2 separate regions of the Homo sapiens genome follow, and region 2 is linked to region 1. Evidence: fine-mapped QTL for protein levels in blood plasma. A gene starts in region 1. The other region holds a variant in brackets. All regions are shown on one strand. Distances are between the middles of the regions.

Region 1 (2,854 bases):
CTGTCACCCAGGTTGCAGTGCAGTGGCGCGATCTCGGCTCACTGCAACCTCTGCCTCCAGGGTTCACGCCATTCTCCTGCCTCAGCCTCCCGAGTACCTGGGACTACAGGTGCCCGCCACCATGCCTGGCTAATTTTTTATATTTTTAGTAGAGACGGGGTTTCACTGTGTTAGCCAGGGTGGTCTCGATCTCCTGACCTTGTGATCTGCCCGCCTCGGCCTCCCAGAGTGCTGGGATTACAGGTGTGAGCCACCGTGCCCAGCCTGGGATTTGTTTTTAAGCATCAATAAATTAATGAGAAGAAAATGACTGACATTTATTGGGCAGTCCTTACATGCCCCCCACATACCCTGCCCTTTAATTTTACATATATGATTTTAGTAATCCTCATGTATCAATTAGTATACAACTTGACTCCAACAAAAGAAAATTCAGACTAACTACAGTTTAAACAATAAAATATTAAATTATTTCATGTAATGAGAAGTCTGAATGGTGGCTCCAACAACAACATGAAGTCCCAACGACTCAGACCTTTTTTTTGCTTCCACTCTGCCATCCTCAATTTGTTGACTTTTTATTCTCAGCCTCATATACCCAAAATGGCTGCTGCAGCTCCAACCATCACATTTGCACACAAGGAAAGAAAAGAATGAGTAGATGGTCATTCTCTTCCTGAGGAAGGGAATCTTTTCTAGAAGACCCTAGCAGGTTTCCCTTATGTCTCATTGGCCGGAATTGGATCAGAGGCACATCCCCAGGTCAGTAAATGGAGAAATCATGAGCACCATCTCTTCTGGGGTCATGTCTATAGGGATCATAAACCTCTTCCATGAACACAAGCCTGCTGCTACCTCCAAGCAGCCACACATGCTTCAGCATCCCTTGTTAATAAGCTACAGGAAAAGAGAAGAGAAGGAGTAACTGTCATTTAAACCTCAGTGTCGAGTATTCCTACTGAGACCTGGAGATGCTGAGAACTTGCCAAGGTGTGAGAGGAGTTGCAAGGAGGCCATTGTGGTTGGGCATGGTGCACGAAAGGGAGAGAGGAAGAAGTGTACAGGGAGCTGGCTGGCCCAGGGGCCACGCCAGGACTGGGGACTCTGTGCTGTGTGATGGGCAGGCTTTGGACAGTTGTATCCAGAAGATGATCTATACATGACGCTAGTTCAAGGATTGCTCTGAGATGTGTGGATGGTAGAAGGTGGGCAGGGAGGCTGGGTATCAGTCAGGAGGCTGTGGCAGCGGTCCCCATGGGGAGCACAGGGCTGGACTAGGACAGCCCATAGAAGACATCCCATCTCCTTTCTTGCCCAAGGAAGAGACTCAGTGGCAGCAGTGCAATAAGGGTACAGGCCAGGAAACCCAACCCCCCAGGGATAGCAAGCATCCAGAGACACGTGGGGACAGCTCCAGCACCAAACGGCTTCTGACCAATGAGCAGAGACGGCAAACAGCAAATGCGTTACCGTGGCTTTCACGTGTCATGAAGGTGATGCTGTAACCTGAGCCTCAGAGCTCATTTTATTTGTGAATTCCTATCATCTCTAGATGGGTGGACTGAAAGCCACCTCTTTCGCTTGCAGCTAGGTAGAGGGGAGTGCAAGAGGGCAAATGAAAACCAGAAGTAGGGTTGGGCGCAATGCCTCACGCCTGTAATCCCAGCACTTTGGGAGGCTGATGTGGGCGGATTACCTGAGGTCAGGAGTTTGAGACCAGCCTGGCCAACATGGTGAAACCTCGTCTCTACTAAAAATACAAAAATCAGCTGGGTGTGGTGGCACATGCCTGTAATCTCAGCTATTCAGGAGGCTGAGGCAGGAGAATTGCTTGAGCCTGGGAGACAGAGGTTGCAGTGAGCAGAGATCGCGCCACTGCACTCCAGCCTGGCCGACAGAGCGAGACTCTGTCTCAAAAAAAAAAAAAAAAAAAAAAAAAAAGAAAAGAAAAGAAAAAGAAAAAGAAAAGGAAAAAGAAAACCAGAAGTAGGAGCAGCCTGAAGAAATGACAGGGAGTTGATTTCCCACTGGGAGCCCTCTCAAAGCCCACACACCCGCCTGCCTGGGGTAACAGTATCTCCTCGGACATCCTGCACCCTCCCATGCTCCCCCCTCCCTACAGTAGTGAAAGACCTAGGCAGGATGACCCCAGCTCCTCTGTGAGAATTTCACACCCTAGTGTGAAGTCATAGCCTTGTAACTTTCCCTTTAAGAACTGTCAGAGCTGGGGAGGCTGGCCAAGCTCAGGCTGGAGGTGGGGACAGAGGGAAGAAAGAAAAAAAAAAAAGAGAGAGAGGCAGGAAAAGTTTTTTCAGAGGAAAATGCAGGGTTTGTCCTTCACCCTGACGTCAGATCTTGCTTTAATAAAACCCCCCAAGGGCTGCGGAAGAGGCATATCTGGTGCTCCTGATGGGCCGGCCAGTCTGGGCCCAGCTCCCCCGAGAGGTGGTCGGATCCTCTGGGCTGCTCGGTCGATGCCTGTGCCACTGACGTCCAGGCATGAGGTGGTTCCTGCCCTGGACGCTGGCAGCAGTGACAGCAGCAGCCGCCAGCACCGTCCTGGCCACGGTGAGTCCTGCCTGGAGGGGCTCAGAGGGAGACCCAGCTCCCTTCTCTACTGGGTCCTGCTACATGGGGGCTGGTGGGCAGGATGAAAAGGGCCAGGAAGGTTTGGGGCTGGAAGGTGGCCACTTACAGGGCAAGGACAGAGCCCAGGGTGAGGAGTCAGCTGCCCAGGTTGGCTGAAGCTGGCAGGGTGAGGAGGACGGTGCGACACTTGGGGAAACAAACTGCACAGGTCCAGCCTGCCCTCTCTCCCCACCTGAAACAGTGCAGAAAGAACGGGGCCCTCAGC
Region 2 (2,902 bases), 77 kb before region 1:
CCCAGGAGTGGTTGTGTTCACCCAGGAGTGGCTGTGCCCACCCAGGAGTGGCTGTGCCCACCCAGGAGGGGCTGTTCCCACCCAGGAGGGACTGTGCTTACCCAGGAGGGATTGCTCATTGATGGAATTCTAATCACATTGATGGAATTCTAATCACAGGTCCTGTGTGCTTGTAAATGTTTGGAGAAGCAATTTAAACACACCAGAGTGTGCTGATAAGCACGTTGCACCGTTTACATAAGGTCCTAGAAATATGTAAACACATAGCACAGGACTGTGCTGGGGCCCAGGAGGCTGGGCCTCACACCAGGGGCTGCATCCCAGACTTTCCCCTGCCCATTGTCTTCAGAAAGGAGGAAACTGGGTCCTGGGGGAAGGCAGTGAATGGCCCCAGACTCCCACAGTGCAGACAGCAGCAACACCAGAACAAGGAAGGAACAGAGAGAGGGGGGAATTTCAGAGAGAAATAGAGAGAGAAGGAGAGAGAAGGGGAGAGAAGGGGAGGGGAAGAGAAGGTGAGGGAAGGGAGAGAAAAGGGGAAGCATGAAGGAAGGAAAGAGAAAGACAGAGAAAAGAAAATAGAAAAAGTTGCGCCCATCTGGACACACATCCCCCAGAGAACTGCGTGCCTTTCCTGGCCATCCTATATAAAATAGCCCCAGCCCCAGCATTCCATATCCTTCGTATATGGCCTTATATTTCTTTGTAGCACCTGTTCCCTGATATACCATACATTTATTTGCTCATTTTCCACCTCTGCCACTAGAACGTGAGCCCCAAGAGACAGGGAGCTTGATCGGCATGTTTGTGGCTGTTTCTCCAAGCCTGGGGCACTGCTGGCCCTGGTGAAGCGTAACTATCTGTATGAAAGTGTGCATGAAGCATTCATATGATGAGTGACTGAGTCCATGAATGAAACTGAATTTAGCTCTCCTAACATGACCAGACCACAGTTACTCATGAGTTGGCTGAGCAAGGAGCCCGGGAAAGCAAGTGAAACTCGGGGGTTTGACCTGTTCTCAGACTGCAACAATGGTTAACCTTAACAGAGCACTTATTAAGTGCCAGGTACCATTGTAACTACTTGCCATAATCCTATGTGGCAGGCACTCCCATTTTCAGATGGGGAAGGCAGGCACAGAGAGGGATAGCCATTTGCTTAAGGACACACAGCTAGAAGGAGGCAGAGCTGGGATTCGAACTCAGACAGTCTGGCTTCCACTTGTGTTTAATGCCATGCCCCACTGCTTCCCAGAGAGAAAATTCTAGAGCAAGGGTTTGAGGGACACTGACTTGGACCTTTCAGAATCCAACTGAGGAATTTCGTATCTTTTTTTTTTTCTAGCAATTTGAGGAAAGTCGAGGCCGGACCAGTAGCAAAACAGCCTTTTACCAGGCACTGCAGAATTCTCTGGGTGGCGAGGACTCAGATGCCCGCGTCGAGGCTGCTGCTACATGGTATTACTCTCTGGAGCACTCCACGGATGACTATGCCTCCTTCTCCCGGGCTCTGGAGAATGCCACCCGGTAAGCTAAGCTGCAGGAGGGTGCAGATTCCTACTGCTATGTTTTGGAGCAGACTCAGTTGGTGTTCAGGTCATGAATGAGAAATAAAGGCACGTGGCTTTGTGCTTGAGGTTTCCTCTGCATCATTCATTCAGCCTACAGCATGGGGAGTGTCCCTGCTGAGGGGAAGCCCTGGAGGACATGTAGGGTGG[A/G]CCCTGCTGCCAGGAAACCCCAAGCCAATGAGAGAAATGAGGGGGTGACTCTGGCTCTTCCTGGGCCATGAGGGAGCTGTCGGAGGGCAGAGACGAAGCACTTGCCAGAAGTGCCTGGTGCACGCTCCACCTGAAGCAGCCGCTCAGCAAATGCTCAGGACAACCTTCCACGCTCCTGGCCTTGCATTCACTGAGCCCAGTGCCCCCAGTCTTGGCTGCCCATCAGGCACACGTGAGCGCATTTAAAGGGTAGGTGACACACAGGGCCCATAGTGGGGCAGCATTTTCCAAAGCTCCCTCAGCTGATTCCACCTTGCAGTCCAGGCCCACCCGGCACGTGGGAAGCAGAGGCCTGGAGGCAGGGAGGTTTTGTGGCTGATACCACTCCCCACATAGGAACAGCCCAAGCTCTGACAGCCCTGCGCCCTCTCTCTGGGGCCCGCTGTTTCTTGTATCCACTGCTTACATGCCTTGTCCCCATTCAAGCTCAAGCTTCTCTCACTTGGGGAAGGCTGCCAAACCCCCACCCCAAGATGGCTAAAGGCTGCAGCCCCCAGGCCCTGCTGTCCCCAGGGTCCCTCTCTTGCAGCACGCCCCCGGCCCCAGGGGTTGTCGGGACAGACCTGCCTCCCTCTCCTAGTACTGCATGAGCTCACTGAGGCTGAGAACTTTTACAGAAATGCACAGCAGATGCACAAGAAATGATTTTTGAATAGAAATAAGAAAATAGCCAGGGCTCCAGTCCTTTCTTCCTTCTGAGCTCCTTAGGATGAGACCACAGTGGGGACTGCAGCTCTCAGGTCACCTTTGAGTCCCCTCACAGGTGACGCATCTTGGTTTTCTGAGGGCTCTCCAGTCCCAGTGGGAAGAATGGGTGGGATGCGAGTGCTTTTTACATTCTGTGCCTCCTTTTCTCTCTCCTTCTGGGAGGCCCATTTGCTTGTTGTCCCTGGGGACAGAGCCAATGTCAAGGCTCAGCATCCTTTGGTAAACTGGAGCCTGTTGGGAAGGGATGGGCTGGAAGGTGTTAGAGACCCACTGCCCTGCTTGGTCTCTCCACTCAGGAGCCTGTGGTTTCCAACTGGAGGGTCACTGGCTCAGAATAAAACTGTACCACCCACTTGGATCTTGCGGACTAAAAGGCTTTAATTTTCCCTCTAGTGGAGATCTCCACTTTAGATTAA

Which allele goes with the higher level. Positions count from the first base shown, and alleles are read on the strand shown. Strength reflects both the effect of a copy and how common the allele is.
As copies of G replace A in region 2, the plasma level of the protein whose gene starts at base 2,394 in region 1 goes up (moderate association).

What was found. A credible set is the group of variants that fine-mapping cannot tell apart. PIP is the posterior inclusion probability: the model's chance that the variant is causal. The UK Biobank Pharma Proteomics Project read protein levels with antibody pairs (Olink). The fine-mapping took linkage between variants from a reference panel, not from the people measured, so its PIPs are less certain.
Region 2: its variant is the best candidate, but not a certain one, in a credible set for the plasma level of the CCN4 protein (UK Biobank, PIP 0.57).

The regions. Positions count from the first base shown.
Region 1 is chr8:133,188,646-133,191,499 of GRCh38, forward strand. It overlaps CCN4 (cellular communication network factor 4), which reads left to right and starts at 2,394. Exons shown (of 5, transcript NM_003882.4): 1 at 2,394-2,568. The coding sequence starts at 2,500.
Region 2 is chr8:133,112,077-133,114,978 of GRCh38, forward strand. TG (thyroglobulin) reads left to right here. Exons shown (of 48, transcript NM_003235.5): 44 at 1,346-1,527. Among named protein-coding and RNA genes, the nearest start is that of SLA, 11 kb to the left of the region's middle. The variant A/G (reference allele first, on the strand shown) is at 1,719.